Linked DNA regions of Homo sapiens. The protein of the gene in region 3 purifies or fractionates together with the protein of the main gene of each other region. This does not show direct contact. Each region holds a gene or a part of one and is shown on either strand. Other genes may lie near its edges.

The links.
Region 1: the proteins of XPO6 (region 3) and DIAPH1 purify together in Homo sapiens (affinity purification with mass spectrometry, with the first as the bait; one study listed by BioGRID). This does not show direct contact.
Region 2: the proteins of XPO6 (region 3) and ENAH purify together in Homo sapiens (affinity purification with mass spectrometry, with the first as the bait; one study listed by BioGRID). This does not show direct contact.
Region 4: the proteins of XPO6 (region 3) and SLC27A2 purify together in Homo sapiens (affinity purification with mass spectrometry; one large-scale study listed by BioGRID and IntAct). This does not show direct contact.

Annotation. Positions count from the first base shown.
Region 1 is NC_000005.10:141,528,501-141,532,000, reverse strand, and holds part of DIAPH1 (protein diaphanous homolog 1), read left to right. Parts: intron 1-2,303; coding exon 2,304-2,398; intron 2,399-2,727; coding exon 2,728-2,829; intron 2,830-3,059; coding exon 3,060-3,299; intron 3,300-3,418; coding exon 3,419-3,500. UniProt on the Homo sapiens protein: Actin nucleation and elongation factor required for the assembly of F-actin structures, such as actin cables and stress fibers. Binds to the barbed end of the actin filament and slows down actin polymerization and depolymerization.
Region 2 is NC_000001.11:225,486,329-225,489,123, forward strand, and holds the end of ENAH (protein enabled homolog), read right to left. Parts: 3' UTR 501-2,795; downstream 1-500. UniProt on the Homo sapiens protein: Ena/VASP proteins are actin-associated proteins involved in a range of processes dependent on cytoskeleton remodeling and cell polarity such as axon guidance and lamellipodial and filopodial dynamics in migrating cells.
Region 3 is NC_000016.10:28,110,966-28,114,465, forward strand, and holds part of XPO6 (exportin-6), read right to left. Parts: intron 2,086-3,500; coding exon 1,939-2,085; intron 1,042-1,938; coding exon 852-1,041; intron 1-851. UniProt on the Homo sapiens protein: Mediates the nuclear export of actin and profilin-actin complexes in somatic cells.
Region 4 is NC_000015.10:50,199,196-50,202,695, forward strand, and holds part of SLC27A2 (long-chain fatty acid transport protein 2), read left to right. Parts: intron 1-3,291; coding exon 3,292-3,450; intron 3,451-3,500. UniProt on the Homo sapiens protein: Mediates the import of long-chain fatty acids (LCFA) into the cell by facilitating their transport across cell membranes, playing an important role in hepatic fatty acid uptake.

The sequences.
Region 1 (3,500 bases), on a different chromosome or scaffold from region 3:
GGCAGTGATTTTGAGGCTGGATTGCTTTTTATCCTGTGTAATTTTTAGGAAGGCTGCTTTGGCAGTGATTTTGAGGCTGGATTGCTAAGGTAAGGGGAGACTATAGGCAGAGATGAGTTATGTCATTGTTTTAAACTAGGTGAGATGTGATCAGGGCCTGAAACTAAGGTGATGAGAATAAGAGAGGGAGAGGATATTAAGATGGTAGAATTAGGCTAGGTGCAGTGGCTCATGGCTGTAATCCCAGCACTTTGGGAGGCTGAGGCAGGTGGATCACTGGAGGTCAGGAGTTCGAGACGAGCCTGGTCAACATGGCAAAATGCTGTCTCTACTAAAAATAGAAAAATTAGCTGGGCATGGTGGAGCACGCCTATAATCCCAGCTACTCATGGGGCTGAGGCAGGAGAATCGCTTGAACCCGGGAAGCGGAGGTTGCAGTGAGCCAACACCATGCCGTTGCACACCAGCCTGGGTGACAGAGTGAGACTCATCTCAAGCAATAAATAAATTAAAATAAAAAACTAGCCAGATGTGGTGCCGCATGCCTATAGTCCCAGCCACTTGGGAGACTGAGGTGGGTGGAGGATTGCTTGAGGCTGGGAGGTCCAGGCTGCCATGAGCTATGACTGCACTGCTGCACTCTAGCTTGGGCAACAGAGTGAGATGCTGTCTCAAAAAAAAAAAAGAGAGAGAGAGAGAGAAGGTAAAATTAATGGAATTTAGTGATTGACTTGGGATAAAGGAGAAGGTGCTTTGAGGTTTAGGTCACTCTGCGGAAAGTGGTACCATTTACTGAAATAGGAAAATTCAGCAGGAACAGATTGTCTTTTCGGGGAGGTGGATGTGAGAGGTAGCAGGTTGGTGTCTTACTTAAAGTATATTCTCTAAGTGGCTGCCATCTTTTCATTGGCTTTGTGGTTATGGAATAAATCAGAGTCGTGGAAGTGAGAGAGAATAGGCTAGTTTAGATTGCTATAAAGTGAAAGAAAGAGAAACTGGTAATTTAGAGAGGAACATTGAGTAAGATTTAAAAAACTTGATTATGTATATATGATGAAGGGAAAGGTCTGTGGGGCTGCCTCTTCTGTTGACACATGAGGAAAGGATGAGTACATGGGAGTATATATACTTAGACGTAAATATATGAACACATGCCTCCTATAAGCTTACGAAAATGTTGGTATAGTTTTCTTCTAGGCGATTCCAAAAGGCTTATCTGAGTCTTTTCTAGTCTGGCTCTAACCAAGAGCCCTAGTGCTTTATTTTTAAGTAGGATAAGAGAAAGCTGAGCAAGTAATTTGACCAGTGGCTTTGATTTTTCTCAGTGAAGAGGAGCAGGGTCTTCCTGGAACAAATGGGGAAGTGGTGGGGCAGTGGGGAAAGTGGGAATATGTTGGAGGACCTGCCAAGAAGGGTGGGAGAAAGTGGAATTGGGACACACAAAGAGAATTGCTAACAGCGCGGAGGCCCCAGTTATCATTGGTGCTACTGCAAATTCATAGACTCCAGTCCGCATCAGCCTAGGTGTCAGAGTAGAGAAATGAAATGGCTAGACTGACCAGGGACCCAGAAGGAGAAGGAAGCAAAAGAAAGGTAATAGTAGGAGTAATAATACTAATGGGAGTCATAGTAGAGAGCAAATGAACTGATGGTTTAGAGGCTCCTAATGAAATAGGAAAGGCAGAGTGGAACTGATATATCAGTGAAAACAGAATGGTCAGGAGACTGGAAAGAGAGGTCCTGATAAGGCTGAAGAGTCAAGTGAGAGATTAGAAAGGGAGAGTTGAAAAAACAGGATGTATTTGTTAGGGAATAGGATATGGTGGTTTAAGGTCAAGGCAGCTTTGAGGATCACGTCCTGAGAGTGGGGAACTAAAGTAGAGTGGGGTGAAAGTCTTTGACGTATATATACTTTTTTGAGACGGGTCTCGCTCTGTTGCTCAGGCTGGAGTGCAGTGGTGCGGTCACAGCTCACTGCAACCTTGACCTCCTGGGCTCAGGTGATCCTCCCACCTCAGCCTGCCGAGCAGCTGGGACTACAGGTGCACACCACCACGCCTGGCTAGTTTTTGTATTTTTTGTGGAGATGAGGTTTCCCCATGTTGCCTAGGCTGGTCTCAAACTCTGGGGCTCAAGCGATCCGCCCACCTTGGCCTCCCGAAGTGCTGGGATTACAGGCATGAGCCACTGTGCCTGGCCTAAAAGAGCCCTGTTAGGAAGATTATCCAGCATAGGTTTGCAGGATGGGTTGGAAGCGGGAACAGACCGAGAAGAACATGTCTTAATATCTCATTTTCTGGCAGCAATCTTTTTGGGTTCCTTCCGCATGCCCTATCAAGAGATTAAGAATGTCATCCTGGAGGTGAATGAGGCTGTTCTGACTGAGTCTATGATCCAGGTAAGGAGTAAGGTGGTTCTGCTGGAGCAGGCTCTTCTGTGTCGCTGGGCACTGGCCTCATCTCTGTGTAGATGAAGAGGATCCTCCTCCAGCATTGCTGACTTATGAATGCTGGCTTTGAGAAACTGCCTTTTCTCTGGTGGTCAGATTACTTCTGGTATATTTTGCAAAAGTACCCCCATCTCAGTAGCTGCCTCTCTTCTCCCACCATATGTTTCTTTCTGTATGGTCCTTGAGCAGAGTGTGGGACTGACAACAGAGTAAAAGTTGTTTAGGCTTGAGTTGTTAGCGAATTCCCCTCCAGCTGAGATGTCTCTTCTGTCTTTCAGAACCTCATTAAGCAAATGCCAGAGCCAGAGCAGTTAAAAATGCTTTCTGAACTGAAGGATGAATATGATGACCTGGCTGAGTCAGAGCAGTTTGGCGTGGTGGTGAGTGAGGCCTGTGGCAGTAAGCGGTTTTCCACCTCCTGTATTCCCCTCCCCTCTAGAGAGCAGCCTGGGCATATGCTCCTTGCCGCTTGTCTGTTTTTGAACCTGTCTTAATCTCTCTCTTCTCCCTGCTCTGGAGCTGTGATCCTCCCATAGGAGGCTCAAGCGTGTATCTTTTTCTGACTTCCCCCTCTTTTGACTGTAATGGAACTGCTTGTGTTCTTTACTAGATGGGCACTGTGCCCCGACTGCGGCCTCGCCTCAATGCCATTCTCTTCAAGCTACAATTCAGCGAGCAAGTGGAGAATATCAAGCCAGAGATTGTGTCTGTCACTGCTGCATGTGAGGAGTTACGTAAGAGTGAGAGCTTTTCCAATCTCCTAGAGATTACCTTGCTTGTTGGAAATTACATGAATGCTGGCTCCAGAAATGCTGGTGCTTTTGGCTTCAATATCAGCTTCCTCTGTAAGGTGAGCCAAAGAGGTAGGGCAGGACAACACAAGGAAGGCTGTAGCCTCTATGAGTTCAGTGTTGGCAGGAGGCCATCTTGGACATGTCAGGATTTAACAGTTTCTCCTCTTTCTCTAAGCTTCGAGACACCAAGTCCACAGATCAGAAGATGACGTTGTTACACTTCTTGGCTGAGTTGTGTGAGAATGACTATCCCGATG
Region 2 (2,795 bases), on a different chromosome or scaffold from region 3:
AAAATGCTGGGATTACAGACATGAGCCACCATGCCCGGCCTGAGAACACTAAGTCTTATGTCTGTCTTCAGCTCTTCAAAGCCCCAAAGCACTTGCACCATTGTGTAGTTTTGCAGTGGTCCCAGTACTGGTTCCTGCAGTAAGTACGCTTAATACTAAAATGCACAGGGCATTTGGTCCTGGAGGAAAATAGCACGTACATGCAGCTCGTTCATTTACCAACAGGCTGTTCACTGGCTTTGGACGCCTCCAATGAAGAGGTCACCAAGCTTTCCGTCATAGAGGAGCAGCAGCATTCAGGGAAAGGATGGCGGATCGCAAAACACTCCCCTTGGTGACAGGCTGAAATGCAGAAGGACCAGTATAGAACGCTCCTCAAGCTTTTAGAACTGAGCGTATTTTAAGGTCAGAATCACAACCAAGACAAAAGAATGCAACTCTTTTCATGTCGTATACCTTTGGTAAATTAAGAGCAACTGGTAAAATAAATACAAATCTCATTTGAATTAAGTATTTCATGTTTTTATTTCAAAAGAAAAAAGGATACCAAGAAGCAGAAGAATGAAGCAGTTAAAACCAGCAAAGCTGCAAAGTAGGAAAGAAAGCTGAGGGAGAGATTGATCCGATTTCAACGATGTGGCCACTTAATGCAAACACAGGGGTCTGATGCTGCAAACCTAAGTCACATGAGTCCAGTGACTTCAGCAGGTCCACTGATCCACCACAGTGACAGGGCCAGGCCCCTTCCTGCTGAATCCTAACTTTACACATTCTAGACACATGTCATGCACATACAGGTTACACTTTATGGTTACATGAAATTGCATGCAATTCACACAGAGAATCATTTTGAAGGCACTGTATTTTGCAGCAGGAGCTGCTACTTTCTGGCAAGTCCTTCCTAGGTTGGCTCACAAGTGGTCCTCCTTTTTATTTATTCCTATATGAAACTTTGGTCCAAAAATCAGGTGCAGTCTGATCCTACCCTCCCAGCTGTTTTAGTTTCATGTCTCACCTTCTCTTCCACGTTCCCTTCTTAAACGTAGATGTCAAGCTTAGAAGATGTTTCCTGACAATGAGATCCTGTTTAATTCAGATTTTCAAACAACTTGAGTCAAGCAAGCAGGAGCTTATAGTATGTTGATTTAAAACAAGTTGTTACCAGTTTCCCTTACCCTTGAATTCGGCAAGGCCCATTAATTCACAAATTCCATGATAAGATACATGAGGTTCTGTATGCATAGTAAATGATTTCTAGTTACAATTAAAATACAGCCTTGTATATGTTTAAGTCAACCTTAACTTTTAAAACATGACTTCAGTATACGCAACCTTAGGCTCACTTCCAGATTATAAAGTCCCATTCATGGGGTGCAAATGTTTACATTGTTAGCAAAGAAAATAGCTCTGCATAATCTTTTGACATACATGCACACTTCTAGTTCTAAAATTCAGAGCAAAGCAAGATGACAAGAGATTCCAATTCCAGCATATATTATGAAAGGTTATGGACTGTGACTATCCATCCTTTTGGACCATAAGAAATTCACTTTTAAATTTTTTCTACTGTGCTGTTCTACTATATACTTTTGGTCTATCAACTTGGTAGGCCTGAAAAAAAAAAGTATTTAACCTTCTAAATCTCATAATAGAAATTATGTACGTTGTTCTTTAACCAGAAAGGTTCACTGCTGACTCCCCCACCTCTCAAAAAACAAACAAACAAACAAACACCACCAAAGCTTTCCGCCATTCATGCACATGCTTATTCTGACCCCAACCCCATCCCTACAAAGGGGCAGCAGACAGCACAATAGTCAAGGACAAGGTTTTTATTTATTTATTTATTTATTATTTATTTATTTATTTTTTAAGGAGACAGGCCTCGCTATGTTGCCCAGGCTGGCCTCCAACTTTGGGCTCAAGTGATCCTTCTGCCTCAGCCCCCCGAGTCGCTGTGCCTAGGAGCACGCACCACCACACCTGGCTTAAGTAGAAGGTTCTGAAATCTGCCAGAGGCTGAGCAACAGAAAGCTTCCAATGAGAACTCAGAAGGCATTCACTCTGCCTGAAGTTGTGCTCTGCTCACAGCACGAGTGTGGCTGTCCCTCTCTCGCTCCCACCAGCTACATAATAGGGACTTTCAGGATGCTCCTATAAATACAGACTCCAGAGAGGTTTCCTCAAAAATTAAAAAAAAAATTCTATGCAAATATGTAAGTACTGTCATTGAGGATTACAGAAATACTTTGCATCAACTACAGATGTCTCAAAATAGAATTCTTTCTAGCTCATTCAGTTTTGTTAGAAACACTTCATGTTCTCCAAAAAAGAAAAGCACCTAACGAAAAGCATGTCCTATTCATGCTAGCAAGAAATGAATCCCAAAGGACACGCACCAAGAACCAAAGTAAAAGAATGTCAGCAAAACAGGACCCATCTTTTATCATCCCAAACTGCTATTTCCATCTCTGACTTTCTGCCAAATTATCTTTATCTTCCTAAGACGAAGCAAAGACTCAGAGCCCTCAAATGGCACGGAAGCGGCACCTGGTCTGCCAAGACATTGCTGTTAAACAGAGTCTTTTGGATTAAAACCAGGGAACTCGGAAGGAATGACTACATGGATATAGATGGATAAGATGGAAGATATAAAATAAGAAGGGCAGGAGGGTAAGATTATTCCTTTTTTCCTTTCAAGGCTGACAGTGATAGAATAAACAGCAGCACAGCAGGTTCAGATGATATGAAAACCACTGAATTCTGCCCAGGAATTGAAAGAAGGGCTTCTTCAC
Region 3 (3,500 bases):
AAGGGAAGGTAAGAAGGAAGCATGGTTAAAATGGTTACTTTCTAAAATATTAAAACTGGTCAGATTTAGGAGTTACTTTTTCCTTCTTTGTATTATTCTATTTTAATGTATTTGTACAATGCACATATGTTAATCTTCCTAGTTATAAAAGTAGTGTTTTTTAAAGAGTATAGTATTTATTACTATTTCTGACATTTCACAAAGCATTTTTGCTGACATTCCATAAATGGCACCATCTAATAATGTTCTATTATTTTCTTTTTGTGAAAGGAGCTCGTATTTTTAAAATATTTCGGTACTATTTGTTATTTCAAAGAGATATTTCCTTATTCATTTTTTTCCCTCTTTCTTTAATATAAACAAGCAAACTTCAAGTGCCATTTTTTAAGAAACTAAGCTCTTTCAAAACCTCTGGAAGATCTGTATTTGGAAAAAGGTTGAAACCAATCTGGAAAAATAGTTCTTGAGCGCATTTTCCCAGCGTGTAGAGGTGAACTGCTTTGTTTGCCTACACAAGCATCTGAAATAGATCAATAACCACCTTAAGATGTATTTTATAGACAGAAGGCACCATCACCAGTGTCTTCCATTTTTTCTTAGGGCTCCAGCATTTTTTACATTTTAAATAAGAGAAGGGACAGTTTGATTCTGGAAATAGGTCTGGCTGCTGTCTTAACTGAATTCCAAAGGTAGCAGGATCCCACCCCCAAGTATGACTTCCTGCTCAGCCTCTGTGGGACTATGAACAAAAAAAATTTACCTCAGGAGCCTCCGGGGCAAATCTCATCTGCCACAAAGAACAATGCCTGCCTACCTCCTTCCCCAGCTGTCCTAGCCTAGGGGTCACTTACTGTCATCCAGTGGCATCTTTCTCTGTGGGGCAACAGCACTGGGCTTCAGGTTGCGATAGTCCCGGGAGAGTGCAGAGATGAGGCTGGCGTGGTTGATGGAGCGCACGGGCCACTGCTGCTCATTCTCTGGAAGGTTTGGCCACGGAAGCAGCAAGATGTTAGAGAGGGCTCGGCACACCAACACCTGGGCCTACAAGAGACCCCAAAGGCATCCATCAGAGGTCAGAGCCAAAGACCGTGGTGCGGCATGCCCAACACAGCCTTCAGCACCCGCTGGCTGCACACCTGGAACCCTAGCCCCCAGGCTCGTTTCTTGCAACCTGGGCAAGGCCTTTGGTCCAACTGGAAGGCAACTTAGGGAGGAAGATGAAATGAAGTAATAGCACCATGTCTAGGTCTAGCATAACCCAGAGCTAACCTCTCGTTTCCTCTCTAATCTGATACTTGAAGTATTAGAGAGGGAAAAATCACACTGCAGACACTGAATCTCAGGCATTGTTCAGCTGGTGGCTTCTGAGTCCTCTGAGAAGCTACTTAGAGCAGGACTTGCAGGAGAATCCGTGACAATCCATGCCCCTAGCACCAGGTCACATCCTGCAATCACATCCTGGTGCCCTCTGGTACCCTCTTCAAACCTTCCTGCCCTCCCTCCTGTTAGGTGGTTTTTAAACTTCTAGCTTGAGCCTCCTTTGAGGATTCTAAGAAAATGCACTTGCCTGGCACTTCTCAACCCCAAAGAACACACACAGAACAGTGACAACAAAAACCAGACTGCTTTGAATCAGAAAGAATGCAAAGAGAATTCTCACAACACTGGCCGAAATTACCAGGCTGCAAAGCAGCAAAACCTTTCTGCACACTGGGAGGTGCTTTTCCACGCCTCAATCAGCACACTGACTGCCTGCCTTAGAATGGGCACGATGAGAATCACTGAGTCTGTGTCAGTGCCACACAATAAGAAATCTGTCTATGCTGGTACAGCCTGTAAGCTCTGAGTACAAAATCAAAGGCCAGACTCTTCTTCCTCAGCTTCCTTGGGTCTCAGTCACACAGCCCTGGGGACCCCGGGGGAGCTCTGGGGCCTCACCTTATCGACAAGTCGCAGGGCAGAGGCATCAGTGATTCTGTTGAATACTTTCTGCACTGCAGGGATGCTGATCAGAAAGACGGGCCGCACGGTGGTGGCCAGTGAGACCAGTAAGTGGCACGCAGATAGCAGCAGCTTGTCTTGGACCTGCAGAGGGAAGAGGGCACGTCAGCTCACCACATCCCTGTAAGACTGGGATTCGAACTTTGCTGAGGCAGCCACAAGCTATGTGTCATTCTTGGTTTCCAAATTACACCACCTAGGCCCTATCTAGCTCAAGAATTTTTCCTATGATGACTACAAGAGAAGCCCATCTTCTCTGTCATGTCCACAGCTCCTGCCGCAGCCATTATCACCTCCTCCCGTTCCTCCTTCACAGTCACCAGCAGCCTTGAACTCAGGCACTTCTCAGCTTAGAGTCTGCAGTGGCTCCCTATCAGCTATTAAATCACACTCCCTGGCATGTCATCCAGGTCCTAGAATTCTTCACCTCACTAATTGTTCCAGCAGAGCCAAGATCTCCCCGAGCCCCCGACTCTTCTGTGCCTTAACACTCAGGCCAGTCTCTCCTACTGCTTTCCCTTCAGCATGCCTATCAAATACTTGGTTCAATTACCACTGTTGCTTTCAAATTAGCAAAGGAGAAAAACGTGTTACAGATGGGACCTAATGCTGGTAAGACTAAGATAAAAACAGCACACCAAAAAGTCAAGGCAGGCAGAATTACTTCGGGAAAAAAATTACTATGATTTCCCAAAGTCACAAAATATTCCTAACCTTTAACCCTTACTCTAAGATTACCTATAACCTATAATACTTACTCTAAGAAGATTACCTAAAAGGGTAAAGCTACATTCATGAATGTGTGCATTTCAGAATTCTTTATAATTTTTTATTTTTTAAGGGAGGCAGCCTAGAAGTCCAGCAATGGCTAGGAAAATAATGAAACATATTCCTGATGGGATAGGACTATTTTCAAAGTTATAATTATAAATACAACATAAATTTATGGAAAGCAACACATTGTTATTAAAACAATACACTGTTTAAAAATGTATAAAATGTTATGTATGACTAAAACTACAAAAAAATTCAAAGAATAAACACATATATGCTCTAGTAATATAGCAGACTTGGAGGATAACATAATAGAATCTGTCCAGTTTTAACATGGATATAACCTTTGACTCAGTAATTCCACTTCCAGGAATCTATCCTTCAGGCCCACTAGCATATGTAAGATGGACATAAAAGGAACTCATTTCTAGCAATAGGAAAATTATTATACATCCTCACAAAAAAAAAAAAAAAAAACCACTGGACATTTTGACAATCTGAAGTTGCTGTACATATGTAAAGGAAAATGAAGGCATACTGTTAGGCAAAAGCAGCTATATCTCCAGCTATCTACAAACTTAGTTATTACTTATTACATAAAAAGAGAAAAAAGTCTGGAAGGATATACAGGCATACCTCAGAGATACTGCAGGTTCAGCTCCAGACCACCACAATAAAGCAAATTATGCAATAACGCAAGGCACACTAATTTTTTTGTTTCCCAA
Region 4 (3,500 bases), on a different chromosome or scaffold from region 3:
GCATGTTTTCACAGTCAAATAGAAAACCCCTTTTATTGGGAGGCCGAGGCAGGCAGATCACGAGGTCAGGAGATCAAGACCATGCTGGCTAACATGGTGAAACCCCATCTCTACTAAAAGTACAAAAAATTAGCCAGGTGTGGTAGCGGGCACCTGTAGTCCCAGCTACTCAGGAGGCTGAAGCAGGAGAATGGCATGCATGAACCAGGGAGGCGGAGCTTGCAGTGAGCCGAGATTGCGCCACTGCACTCCAGCCTGGGCGACAGAGCGAGACTCTGTCTTAAAAAAAAAAAAAAAGAAAGAAAAAAAAAGAAAACCCCTTTTAGGGAGAAAAAAGAGAATGAGCATCCTCTGATTTAATCTCGTAAGTCAGAATTTATATTTAATTGGAAGACAATTAGAAGGGTGTTTATTTTACTTTTTTCATTTTCTCTGAATCAAATATTTGCTAGGCCAAGCACAGTGGCTCACATCTACAATCTCAGAACTTTGGGAGGCCAAGGCAGGAGGATTACTTGAGCCCAGGAGTTTGAGACCAGGCTGGGCAACATAGCGAGACCACATCTTTACAAAAACATTAAAAAATTAGCTGGCATAGTGGTACACCTTGTAGTCCTAGCTACTTGGGAGACTGAGGTGGGAGGATCACTTGAGCCCAGGAGTCTGAGGCTACAGTGACGTGCCACTACACCCCATGCTGGGTGACAGAGCAAGGCACTGTCTGTAGAAAAAAAATAGTGCTAAGTTACTCTTGTAAACATTAATTAAAAGAATTTGTTTAAACAGTTGGAGAATAAATGTTCCTGCTCCTCAAAGGAAGTCATTAGCACAAAATTATATAATAGTTACCAGATATTCTCATTTATTCATTAATACAAAATCTTAATTTAGGAAAGTTCTGAAAGTACTTCAAGGCAACAAAGATGAGCATTTCTTTTTAAAAATTTCAGAGGCCAGGCATGATGGCTCATATCTATAATCTCAACACTTTGGGGCCAAGATGGGAGGCTCACTTGAAGCCAAGAGTTCAACATCAGTCTGGGCAATAAAGCAAGACCTTGTCTCTACAAAAAATATAAATAAACAGCCAGGCATGGTGGTGCACACCTGTGGTCCCAGATACCTGGGGGGCTGAGACAGGAGGATCACTTGACCTGAGGCTGTGGTGAGCCTTGAACACCACTACACTCCAGCCTGGCAACAGAGTGAAAGCCTATCTCAAAAATAATAATAATAATAATAATAATACATAAAACAAAACAAAAAACTGGGCCATTGTCAAAGAAAATGAATTTTGAATTGTGTTTACAATAATGGTAGGTTGCTAGCCATATTTGTCTGCCTTGTAACAAGTTGCTGCTATTTGGGCACTATCTGGTGAAGGTACCACCAAGTATTGAAGAATCTGAGTCAACAGAGATCTGTCTTCCTCTTCACGAAGTCTGTTTACCCACTCAGATCTTAAACTCTTAGTCCCCTTCCCAGTGACTTCATGCCCTCCCCAATTGAACTGTTCTTCCATGGGAAACAACATAAGCATACACTTACAGAAGAAAATCTTACAAAAAACGTATATAAATTATGGTTAAGAAAGTGCAAGCGCATTTAGTCTAATGTACTAAAACTACACTGAGATACGGTTTTTCACCTTTCAGACTGGCAAAGGCCCCAACATTTAAGAGCACACATTGACAAGGCTAGGAGGAAACAGGCACACTCATGTATTGCTGATAGGAGAATGAATGGGGACAGCCCTTATAACTGGCAATGTGGAAGTTATCTATCAAAATTACAAAGACTCTTACTCTTTTTTTGAGACAGAAACTCATTCTGTTGCCCAGGCTGGAGTACAGTGGCAGGATCAGGGCTCACTGTAGCCTCAACCTCCTGGGCTCAGGCGATCATCCCACCCAAGTAGCTAGGACTACAGGTGCATACCGCCACACCCAGCTAATTTGTTTTACTTTTTGTAGAGGAGGGGTCTCACTATGTTGCCCAGACTGGTGCTGAACTCCTGGGCTCAAGCGATCCTCCTGCCTCAGCCTCCCAAATTGCTGGGATTACAGGACTGGCCAACTTTTATCTTTTGACACAACAATCTCACTTCAGTGAATTTATCCAAAAGATATGGTGTCATTCATAGTGTGAATTGCCACGTGGACGAGCTTCTTCACTGCAGCATCATTTATAACAGCAAATAGTATAAATAAATTATAATACACTTATAAAAGGACTTGAAGGAGCTGAGAAAGAGAATAAATAAATGAATAAATAAGGGAAATCTTTATGTACAAACATGAACAAATCTCCAGTAAACATTGTTAAGCAGCAGAGACAAAAAACATGCAAAAGAGTGTGCATATTTCTTTTTTTTTTTTGAGATGGAGTCTTGCTCTGTCACCCAGGCTGGAGTGCAGTGGCGCTATCTCGGCTCACTGCAACCTTTGCCTCCCAGGTTCATGCCATTCTCCTACCTCAGCCTCCTGAGTAGCTAGGACTATAGGCACCCACCACCACGCCCGGCTAATTTTTTGTATTTTTAGTAGAGACGGGGTTTCACCATGTTAGCCAGGATGGTCTTGATCTCCTGACCTTGTGATCCGCCCGCCTCAGCCTCCCAAAGTGTTAGGATTACAGGCGTGAGCCACCGCGCCTGGCCAAGTGTGCATATTTTTTAATGGAAAAGGCAAGAACATATAAGCAAATGTTCATATTTGCTTTGTTTGTATAAAATAACTCTAGTACGTAAGAAATCTCTCTGACTCTCAGCCTTCACATCTGTGGATTGGAGAATATAATTCTGTTTATGTCATATATAAACTTGTTATGGATTTTTAAAATGTCTTGCAAAGTGGTAGCCACAGGGCAGAAATTCAATGGACAGTCATTCCTCTGTTTCTGTTTCTCTTCAGATTACTACTGTCATAACCATCTAACTCAGGAGTTAGCAATCTATGGCTTGTGGGCCAAATACAGCCTCCCACCTGTTTTTGTAAATAAAGTTTTATTGGAACACAGCCACACTCCATTTATGTATGTGTATGGCTGCTTTTGACTACAATAGCAGAGTTCAGTTGTTGCAACAGAGATTGTATGACCCACAATCCCAAAACATTTACTCCCTGGTCCTTTATAGAAAACATTTGTCAACTCCTGGACTAACTGGTCATGGCCCTTCCCAGTGCAATTCTCAAAATACAGGGTGATGAATCTTCCTAAGCCAGATCTCTCTCCTACACTGTAAATGCCCAATCTTGGTTAACTCATGCCTTCTCTTGTATATTTACAAAGGTCTTCCAAAAGCAGCCATGATCACTCATCAGCGCATATGGTATGGAACTGGCCTCACTTTTGTAAGCGGATTGAAGGCAGATGATGTCATCTATATCACTCTGCCCTTTTACCACAGTGCTGCACTACTGATTGGCATTCACGGATGTATTGTGGCTGGTAAGCTTTTTCTACAAAATGTTGGAGGCGAGTGCACATTTACATTTTCC